3 linked regions of the Homo sapiens genome follow. The protein of the gene in region 3 purifies or fractionates together with the protein of the main gene of each other region. This does not show direct contact. Each region holds a gene or a part of one and is shown on either strand. Other genes may lie near its edges. The genes, in order: OXSM, SIGLECL1 and ELFN1.

Evidence for each region.
Region 1: the proteins of ELFN1 (region 3) and OXSM fractionate together in Homo sapiens (co-fractionation; one large-scale study listed by BioGRID). This does not show direct contact.
Region 2: the proteins of ELFN1 (region 3) and SIGLECL1 purify together in Homo sapiens (co-immunoprecipitation; one large-scale study listed by IntAct). This does not show direct contact.

What each region holds. Positions count from the first base shown.
Region 1 is NC_000003.12:25,788,514-25,792,263, reverse strand, and holds the start of OXSM (3-oxoacyl-[acyl-carrier-protein] synthase, mitochondrial isoform 1 precursor), read right to left. Parts: upstream 2,175-3,750; 5' UTR 2,117-2,174; exon of another isoform or gene 1,448-2,116; intron 1,275-1,447; 5' UTR 1,244-1,274; coding exon 267-1,243; intron 1-266. UniProt on the Homo sapiens protein: May play a role in the biosynthesis of lipoic acid as well as longer chain fatty acids required for optimal mitochondrial function.
Region 2 is NC_000019.10:51,257,552-51,261,201, reverse strand, and holds part of SIGLECL1 (SIGLEC family-like protein 1), read right to left. Parts: intron 3,461-3,650; exon of another isoform or gene 3,302-3,460; intron 1-3,301.
Region 3 is NC_000007.14:1,668,705-1,672,454, reverse strand, and holds the start of ELFN1 (protein ELFN1 precursor), read right to left. Parts: upstream 2,179-3,750; 5' UTR 2,101-2,178; exon of another isoform or gene 274-2,100; intron 1-273. UniProt on the Homo sapiens protein: Postsynaptic protein that regulates circuit dynamics in the central nervous system by modulating the temporal dynamics of interneuron recruitment.

The sequences.
Region 1 (3,750 bases), on a different chromosome or scaffold from region 3:
GCGTGAAAAGTTGGCAAAGACACACATGGTCTTTTCCACAACTCCATTGGTTTTTAACTCAAATGCAATTTTTGTAAGTATGTTCAAATGCTTTGAAATACTTCAAATGTCTTAAGCAAAGAACTAAACAATCTTGTTTAGTCTAAAAAAGAAAAACAACAGAGATACTGTACACCAAGGCCAGACACTACAACTTCCCTAATTTGGGATTCCCAATAAAGTGTCTTATTTGAAGAAATATTTCGAAGGAAATAACCCATCTTTACCTTAAGGCACCTTCTCCTTCAGGATCAGGGGCAGTTATGTGACCAGCATCACCTGAGAGTCCATAGCCCAAAACTTCTGCATAGATCCGGGCTCTTCTTTGAACAGCATGTTCATATTCTTCCAGCACCAGCACAGCTGCACCTTCTCCCATTACAAAACCATCTCTCTTTGGATGAAATGGTCGACATGCCAACTTGGGATCTGAGTTTGTGCTCAGAGCCCGGGCTCTGGAAAACCCAGCAAGAGATAAAGGGCTAATACAAGAATCTGTACCTCCAGCCACCATCACATCAGCATCACCATGGGCTATAAATCTAAATGAGTCTCCCACAGCATGAGCTCCTGTGGTACAGGCTGTGGATACTGCATGATTTGGGCCCTTGAGTTTATATCGAATGCTGACCTGGCCTGCTGCCATATTGACCAGAATCTTAGGGACAAAAAATGGGCTAACTTTATTGTAACCTTTTGTCTGAAAATTCAAAGCAGTTTCAGAAACAACTTCAAGAGGAATCATTCCCATGCCAATTGCAACACCAGTAGCCACTTGATCAGCTTCTGACTGAGGATGCCAGCCAGAATCCTTCATGGCTAATTCTGCAGCCCCAATGGCCATGATGGTGGGAGAAGACATGGACTTGATATCTGATTTGGACACAAAGTTTTGTTCATTGAACTGACCTTCATCACTACCTCTTGGCACATAAGCAGCAACACTGCAAGGGATACTCTTATACTCTTCACCAACCAGTGAAACAATTCCACTCTCTCCTCCGATAAGACGATCCCAAACCAGGTGAGTTCCAACACCAAGAGGAGTCACTAAGCCAATGCCTGTAATGACAACTCGCCTATGCAATCTGGATATTGGCACAGTTCCGAAAAACTTCCTTTTACTTCTTAACTGTTGGCATAATCTTGAACATAGAAGACGAGTGCTTGTAATTTTCAGGAAATTTTGCAGGCAGTTGGACATGATTAAGATTCAGATGATCAGAAACACATTCCTGTAAAAGACCACAACACACCTAGGAGGTATTCTTTTAAATAGCTTAAGGGCCTAAGGAAAAACATCCAAGGTGTTCCTTTGGGTGCTTGATATGAGCTGCTAATGAACACAGGGAAAATGTTACATACTTTCAATTTATACCTTAACATCAAACTATCTGTTTAAACTTACCTTCTTTTTTAGACCTTAAGTGCCGTCAGACATTTGAAGACAAATAAATGAATTGATGATTCATTCGAGTCACCAAAACAGTAATTCAATGAAAAATATAAAGGCACCTCCAGCCTGATTTGAGCTGCAGGAAGCATCCTTTGTCAGGATTACTGATAACTTCTTCTAAATAGCATTTCTGGTGTCAGTGGCACAGAAAACACATTTCAGGGCATATTCTTTTAAGTAAGTAAGTGGGCTTTATCAATCTTCAGTACTTAAGGATAACCAGCCTTTTCAAAACGCTACCCAGGGCCAAGAGCCCTAGACTGAGCGTCTGGATACATGGGTTGGCAATACACTCTGTGACCAAGCTTGCGATGGGGGAAGGGGACAAGTCTTTCCACTCCTCTAAACTTCTCCAATTGAATCATTGGTGGAAGGAGGGGTTACGACTAGTGGATCACTTCAAGGGTACTACGAAGGCCAGGGGCGGGAGTAAAAGAGTGTAGCCATTCCCTGTATCGCCTCTCAGGCACCACCACACATGTACACAGCCCGAAGAAGCATGGCGAGAGAAAAAGAAATCAGGCCCCAGGTCCTCGGACTCCCCTCTCGAAATTCAACCCCGACTTGATTTGAATGTAAAGGAGGAAAGGAGGGGCGAAGGAGGAGGGTAGCCAGCGATACCTGTAACGGGGCTACCCCGGACACTTCTCCACAGTCGGGGGCGATGACGCTCTCGAGCGCACGCGCACACGCACGTACGCTCATGCGCGCTCGCACGTACGCTCATGCGCTTTCCCACGCACGCGTCCCGTTCGACTCTCTTTCCGCCGGTTGACTTTAAGCCGCGTCACCTTGGCTGAGGTCAGACCGTGGGAGGCGGCTGGGTAGCTGTTTGCGTGAGCAGAGACGCCCCTCTCGGAACCTCAGTGACTCGCCGATAATCGAGGACCTGCCAATAACGCGATGAGGTAGCATTTTCACCCATCAAAAAGGCATTTTTCTTTGGCAGTGATAATGCCCAAATATTCCCTTTTGTCGGAGAAGGGACACCATCGTATTCTACTGGAATTGTAAGAAAGAATTAAGGAAATTCTCTGCAGTTTCAAAGTTATTGCTATAGCTCGCAACGTTATTAGTAATTGTGAGTAAAGTGGAATTAACCAAAATGGCCAACATCAGGAAATTTGTTGTGTATCTTGTGGTACATCCAAATGCCATGCAGCCGTTTAAAATAATTCTGCAGGTGAATATTTATTAATGAGATGTTGCGACTATTTGTTAGGAGACATAGTTACAAAACAGTATATATCCGTTTTTTCAAAAATAATTCTTTAAAGGTCTGCAAGATGTATACTGATTGTGATCTTTCCCTCCTTATTTTTGCTTAGCTTTATTTAATAAAGCTTTTCTACAATAAACAAATGTTTTTGTAATAAAGTTTTTACTTTTTAAAAGTTGTCACCAGGCTGTTCTGCCTATGGAGTAGTCATTCTTTGTTCCTTTACTTTCCTAATAAACTTCCTTTCACTTAAAAAAAAATTATCACCAGATTTGAGACAGTGCTCAAAAATTGTCTCCATTGTCACAATGGAGACATTTGTTTCTAAGTGTGAAAAATTCATTAACTGTTTGCTTAGAGCTGACTGCAAACCGATAAAGGGAAAATATAACATGAAAATGTAAAAAAGCAAGAAGTCGACAAGATGGTATTCATCGAACATCTGTTTTTCACATGCTATCCCAGGCGTGAGTTTTGTCCTTGCTCTTCTTTAGAAAAATGGTTGAGCATAGAATCTTCATCTGGACCTTCTAGTCATATTTATGGTTTTTTCTGGGCAATGCCTCTTGAAGCCATTGTTTCCAAGTAGAGTGCTCTGCATTCTTTCCTACCCCTACAGAAGAATGTGAGTCAAGCTTAGCTTTCCAGGTTGGTCCTGGATTTAAATGAGTTTGGAAATCTATTTTGTTTAAAATAATTCAGCAAAGCTCAGTTTGACCTTCGTCCCAGGCCTAACCAGTCACCTCTAGTTGATCCTCATTCAGTGACAAAGTAGAGTTTCTTGAAGAATTAAAACAAACACATGTGGTTATAAAGTAACACTTGATGAGTAAGTACCTAAACTTGATCTCTTTTCATTGCTGTCTTTAAAATAATAGTGTGAAAATACCTACAATATTTTCTCTGAAGCTGAACTCATAAGAAACATACAGTTTTAATGTGCTATTTCTTTTGTAATATCACAAAATCGTCTTGGCTAAGAGGTGACAAAATCTTTCAGAAAAATAAAAAGACCATCATTTTTGTATCTACCTCT
Region 2 (3,650 bases), on a different chromosome or scaffold from region 3:
CAGACTTTAAGCAAAAGGCATTACCAAAGATAGAATGGCATATCTCCTAATGATAAGCTGACATTAACAGGAATAAAGTATATATTTAAAATTTGTGTTTGCCTACTAACATAGTCCAAAAATATATAAAGCAAAAAATCTACAAAAATAAAAGGAGAAACAGACATCCACAATAGTAGTGTGACATTTTAATCACTGTTCTCTCAGAAACTGACAGAACAAACAGACTATTGGAATATATAAAGATTTCAACAACTTGATCAGCAAATTTGACCAAAAATATATAGAGAATACTGCAATCAATAACTGCAGAATACAATTTCTTTGTAAGCACACAGAGAACGTTTACAGAAATTGGCCACAGCTGGATCATAAGACAAATCTTAATAAAATTTCCATGAAAATATTTAAAATCTCATTAATAACCAGCAAAATGCCTGTTAAAACCATCAGATACCAGTACATATCCAAGACAATATATCAAGTCTTGGTGAGAATGTGGTACTCAACTTTCACACACTATTGGTGGAAATATAAATCAGGGCAACAAAGTTATTTATCAAAGCAGAAGATACACATACTCTATGACCCTCAATTCCACTCCCAGATGTATACTTTATAGAAATGTTTGTGCATATGTACGCCACAAAGGAATGCAAAAATGTTTACAGTGGTATTATTTAAAAATAGCTAAAAAGGTAAACAATCCAAATGCCAGTAAACAGAGAATTTTAAAAAATGAGATACTACACAGCAACAAAAACCTATGAGCTAATGCTAGATGCAACAACATGGACCATTCTTACAAATAAAATATTGAATGAACAAAGCCAGACACAAATAAGTAATAATGTATGAGCATTTCTTTAAAATTTGAAAAAAACCGGGCAAAATCAAGTGTTTAAGAACGCACACACAAGTAGTAAAAATCCTTTAAAAGTTGCCAAGAAATGTCCAGCATAAAAGGTAGGATATTAATTGCCTTTTTGGGAGGAAGAGGTCTGTTTCTCTGTTTATTTTATCATTTGTAGGGGGTATGAACAGGTCTTTTGAGATACTGGCTATAGTGAATTCCATAAGGCTGTACCCTATATAGGCATCCTTTTAATAGTACAGTTTCCCATTGCCCATCTGCCTGACCATATGGCCAGGCCATTGGCCACTGCCCATGAATTGGTAAAAACCCAAATGTGGAGGCAGTTCAGCCCACTGAAGTGACTTGTTTTTGCCTTCCTCAGTATGAGTGCCAGTCTTCCAAACAGGATGTTATTAATTCACTTTGGAATTGCCATCCATAAATCAAACCGCTCTTAGTTGGTCAATCAAGAGCTATTAATAGACATCATTCAAGTAATAATAGGATCTCGCAGCTCTTCAGTAGGGAAAAAGCCACCTGTTCATAAATATAACGAGGACCTCCTTGCATTTCCCTGGTAGCATGTTCCTGTATAAACAATTTCCATTTTATTACGAGACTCTTTTGGGCATGGCCTTCCTTACTACAGTGTTTTTCCAACATGACAAACACATCATGAGGATTTCAGGTGTCAGGATTATTATATCCTTCAATGATGGGGCAGACTCAAAGCCCAATAGGCAGCTAGTTGTCTCTCCATTGGAAATTTTCTGGCCCCAAATCCCAGCATTCACCACTGGGTGGTGCTCACTGGCCTTAGCTCCAGTCTGCCTAAATAAAGCAAACGTTAAGCTTCTAACATGTTTTGTCCACCAGATATCCTGTACTGTTTCAAATTAACAATTAGTGTGGGCTTGGGCAATCTTATTGGTTCCTATTTAGCATATTCAATCAATATTGGTTGAAGGGAAGATTTACATGCCTTCTGTTTCATAATAGTACGTAGGGGAACTCTTCCATAGTTGGACACAATATCTTTCCTCATAATACATTTAGGTAAATACATTCACATAACATATTTACATAGTCTGTCCAAACATTCCAATTTTCATCCAAAGTTTCGCCTGAATCTCATCCACTTTGTAATCCTATGTCTTCGCAATCTAACCATAGATGCTATTAGAATTTCACCAACCTTTTGGAATGCAGGTATAAGACTCCCACATGAGTCCCAGAAATATCTCTTATCCATCCCCTGACTATTTTACTACTAATATGCATATGACTTTGGGTCTTCAGTTAGGGGTCAGGCCAAGCAACCCAGGCCCTTTTGTCATTTATCTTGATTAGATCACATGTTCGTCCCCTCAGGAGATCTGAGGTCAGATTTCCCATTGTCATGTTTGCCTTCTGGCTTCTAAAATTCCTCCAAACTAGGGTAAATATAGCAGACTTGATGGGGGACCTTCAACACTGGAGGGCAAGTCTAGGTTCTCACTGCTCCACCTAATTTCTAAGAGTGCTCCACTGAGACCTTTGTTTAGACTCCCTCAATGTCCACTTAACTCATCTCATTTCTTAATAACTGTTTATAAAGATTTCCACCCTCTTGGAAATGTTCGTCTTTTCTCACTCTCTGGTGAACCACTCTAATTTTCTTTGCCATCTGTCATTTCAGCCTAACTTTTCCCTTTAGCCACAGCCCTGAGGCTAGCAGCTGTAGCTCAGGCTGGCCAGAGCCCAAGATTGGGCCAGCATCAGGATCCGCCTCAGCCACTTTCATTTTAACGATTACAGATAAAAATAGCCAAGGGACTGCCTATTTAGTTTGTTTCCTTATGCATCCAGTGGGTCAGCTCCTTGGGGGTTGGATCCATTGTATTGAAAAAGCAATGGTAACTTTTACCTCCTGTAACTGTTTGCAGAACAGCTGCATTTCTATACGCACAGGTGACCGCAGGACAGCCCAGGAATCAAAGGCTTATCATCTTGACTTCACATCCTTCCTCTTTTCAAACCATATGTTTCAGTGAGTCAGGGCTGTTCTAGTGAATCCCATTTCTGATACAACTGAAAAGTTAGGGAATGGTCCACAAGATCCCCTCATTTCTGACACCAACTGAAGATATCAAGGATCCCTGATTACCCTCATTTCTCAAATCATTTGCAAGGTTTTGGAACCCCAAAACTACCCTTAGGTTTGGTAATTCACTAGAAGTACTCACAGAATTCACTGAAAGCTGTTATACTCGTGATTACTGTTTACTACAACTAAAGGATAGAGATTAAAATCAGCCAAGGGAAGACATACAGGGCAGAGGCCAGAAGTTCCCCACACAAAGCTTCTAGTTATCCTCTCCCTGTGGAGTCATGGACAGCATAACTTAGCTTTCCTGGTGATAATGTGTGACAATATGCATAGTACTGTCAACTAAAGAAGCTCACCCAAGCCTTGTGTCCAGTGTTTTTATTGGGCCTCCATCGTGTAACATGGTGACTTCCCTCATGGTGGATCTTAGCATCCAGCTCCTCCTGAAGTTGAGCTGATACCATTTGATCCAAAGCCCCTATTCTAAATCACATTGTTAGACTATCTGGTATTGCTTCCACTCTAAATCACATTGTTAACATTATCTGGTGTGGCCAGCCCTCATCCTAAATCACATTTCTAGAATATTCAGTGTGATGCAAGGTCCCTGGGCAAACAAAGACACCCCTATGAGGTGTGACATTCTAAGAGCTAGGGAGTGTCTTCCAGAAGCCAAGGGCAAAGGCCAGACTTCTCTTCAGGCAA
Region 3 (3,750 bases):
CGAGACAGGCAACTACTCCAGGCTCTGGCCCTGGGCGCTTGCTGGGACCCCGGACACCTGTTTCTTGGTGGGGACCGTGGTAGGGAGGTGGAGGAGCAGCAGCCTCTCCCTGGCCCAGGTGTGGGGAGCCTGCCTCCAAAGACACTTTGAAAAATCAGTGCTTTCCAGTGGCAGTCCTGGGGCATGGTGGGGAAGGGACGCCGCCCTCCCTCCCCTCCTCTGGTCCTGGGTGCAGGTGCCCACCACATCCCTGCACCCTTACCCCAGACTTACCAGGCCTCAGGAGTGTGGCTCTGGTTCAGGTGCCCACTGGCTTTTCTGGGAGTCGGGAGCTGCCTGCCGAGCCTGCTGTATCATCCTGAATTATACGCACACAGCAGTCCTGCTGCGGCCGAGGAGGAGGGGGCTGCACAGCTGGCTGTAGGACAGGGGGAGGGGCATGGCCCCCAATCTCTGACTTGGAGACCCCCAGGTCTTCTGCCCACTAGGGGTGGGGATCAGAACTCCCTGACCACCGTATGCCCAGGAAAATGAGGGACCCAAGTGCTGGGGTCCTGGCTGGGCTCCAAACCCCCTCAAATCCAGGTGAGGGGGTGACCCCCTCCCACACACGGCCCCCTGGAGTTTGTCCCCCTGCTTTGGTGGAGTGGGGCGCAAACCTGGGCTGGGACCTGTAAGCCAGTCTTCTCAATGCTTGTTCAATTAAAAGGTGGCAGGGGCAGGGACCCAGGGGGCAGGAGGCCAGGGGGCCAGCCAGGCAGAGAAGAGGAGCATGTTGATGCTTTTCAAGCAACCTATGCCCAACCCAATGGGGTTTCCCCCAAGGCTGGGTGCAAGCTGGACCTCTTTGGAGGCTGGGGGCCTCTCTAGGGGGCAGCCCCTGAGAGAGGCAATATGGGGAGATTTGCCATTTACATCTGCTCCTGGCTCCCGGTCCCTCCACAGCTTCTGTCCCCAGGCTCTCCGCACAGCCCTTAGCCCAATCGAGGGAATGAGCGGCAGAGGCAGCCAGCCCAAGCCAGGGTCCAAAGAGGCCCCACTCCGGGTGTGCAGGAAGGGAAAGTGCTGGCACGGAGGCTTTTTGAGGACGTGCACACCTGGCTCGGCCGGCCTCGACCCTTTCTGCTAAGCCTTCGTTTTTTTCAGAAGGCATGATCATCCTAGCCCCATTTCACAGGTGTGGAAACTGAGGCTCTGAGATTCACCTGCCCCAAGGTCACACAGCTGAGACCTGGAAAAGCCGGATTTTCATCTCAGAGGGTGTCGTTTTTATGGGGGGGGGGGCGGTGTGCGGTACGGCAGGCAGTGCCCCCCGCCCCACCCTCAGCATCAAGCAGGTGACCTGCAGGTTTCAAAGGATGGAAATGGGGGCGCTTGTCTTTAGAGGCAGGTTGGGGCACGGAGGCTTGGCAGCCTCCTCCCAGCCCCCAGAGGGACGAGGACGAGGATGGACTCCAGGTGGGGCGAGGGGTGGAAAGCACCCAGTAAGTTCAGTTCGGAGCGAAGCCCCCCACCCCACCCCCCCGCCAGTGGTTGGACTCAGGGGCTGGGACCGAGGAATGTGACCCCTCCCCGTGCGTGACTGGACGGTCCCCGCGCGGAGCGAGGAGGCTCGCAGCGTCGGGGGGAGGGCGGCCCAGCAGGGAGGGCGATGCGAGCCTGGGGAGGGGTCAGCGACTCGGCCAGGAGGTGAGGACAGCCCCCTAATTTCCGGGAAGGGAAGGGCAGGGGGCCGCGTCTGGGGGGCGCCGGGCAGGGTGCGGACGGCGAAGGGGGACGGAAGGGAGAGAGGCGCTGGGGAAGGGACCTCTCGGAGGCACGGGGCAGCGTGCGGGCTGCGGCAGCGACCCCGACCCGGGCCCCCGGGCTTTGTCGGGCTGAGCCTGCGCCCGCTCCGCCGCCGCCAAGTTCCTCCAACTTTGCCCGCTGCGCTCGGATCGCGCGCCAGGCCTGGGGGCGCAGCAGGGGCTGGGGGCGCACGCTGCGCACTCGGGGACGCCCGGGGTTCGAGGTGGCGGGGGGCTTGGCCGCGCCGCTCCCCGGGGGTGGTCCGGGTCCCAAGTCCCCCAGGTTCAGCGCCCGGCCGCGCTCGCCGCTTACCTGCCCGCCCGGCCTCGGTTCCGGGGCTGCGCCCGCAGCCGCCGCCGTCCTTCAAGCTCTAACTTCGCTCCCGGGATTGAAATTCCTCCCCAGCTTCGCCCATCGATCTGCGCGCGCGGCCCCGCCCCTCGCCGCGCGGCCGGGGGGGAATTCAAGCTCGCCCTGCCCCCTCCCGCCCCCCTTCCCTCCCTCCCTCCCTCCTTCTCTCCCTCCCTCGCTCCCTCGCCCGCCTGCGCGCTCCCTTCCACCCCCTCTTCCTCCGCCGCGAGTCCGGCTCGGAGCCTCTGGCCCTCCCCTTCTCTCCCTGGCCTCCCGAGCCCCCTGCTCTCCTCGGCTCCCCGCGGCAACCCGCTCCTTCCCTCTCCCGGCGACGCGCAGGGGCTGGGGAAGGAGGGGAGGTCCTAGAAAGCGCAGGGGGCGTCCTCGCGGTCCGTCCCCGGCCCTCCCCGCCCACATCTAAAAGGTGGAGGGGGTGGGTGGGTGGGTGGGGGGAGTGGGGGCGACAGCTGTTGGCTGAACAAGCTACCCGCGACTCCCACCACCTCAAGCAAAGCCAAGGCGTTCTCAGGTCCTCCCGTCGGTCCGCCCCTTATCCGGGAGGGCAGGGACCTAGGGGCGGAGAACGCAGGGCGCAGGCCGGGCCTCCTCTGCCCAGCCCTGGCCCCGCTTCCTTCCTTCATTCACCCCAACCTCTGTGAGGACTTCAGGGGGTTCTGGAGCACTCTTCGGCTCAGTTTCACCCTGACAACCTGCCTGTGCGGAAGCCCCCGTCCGCATGTTACAGGAAGGGAAACTGAGTCAAGAGAGGCCCAGAATCTGGCCCTACACAGCGCGTCGAAGGCAGAGCCCCAGGGGCAGCCTGGACCCCCGGCAGGAGCCTCGGGACTCCACGCTCGGGCCGGGCAGGCCCCGGCGGTGCCTGGACAAGCCCGCGTTCGCAGAACGGCCGGCGCCTGGGGACCCTCTCCAGTCCCCGCGCAGCCCGCGCGTCCCCGCCGGCGCCCCCTCCCCGCTTCCTGTCCCCCGCCCGCCTCTGGTTCCCGGCCTCAGTACCCCCGGCACGCTCTCCGCTCGCCGCCAGCAGCTGGGCAATTCAACGAGCATACAAAAGAGTTGACTCAATTCAAAGGCAGCAAATCAAGATAAATCCTATAGTGTGTGGGGACCGGAGAGGGAATGTGAATGAACGCCCACGACGCCGTTCAGTCCTGTATGGACCGGCCTAGCCCGGCTGCAGGGCCTGACACGCCCGGGTCCTAGGGTTCTCCAGGAGCCAGAATCGGAGAGTGGGCTCTGAGCTGCCTTGGCTCCCAGGCCCCCAGCACTGGCCCGAATTTAGTAATTTAGAGCTTGTGGCCTCCTTCGGCTGGCTGGGTGGGGCTCCCGTGATAGGGGTGCAGAGCCTTGAAGGGGAGTGCTAGGACGAAAGCCAGTGCGCCCCCACGATTTCATGCAAATACTGGGGGGCAGGGGCCCTGGAAACCCAGCACAGCCCCAGGGGCCGGCAGGAAGGGCACCGGTGGTTTGGAACACCTAAGCTGTGGCCTTTCTCCCTCTGCCCCGACCTGGACCACGGTCAGAGCCAGGCCGCAGGCCAAGAGCAGGTCCTTGTTTACCCACCAGATAGATACTGCAAGCCTGGGATGTGCC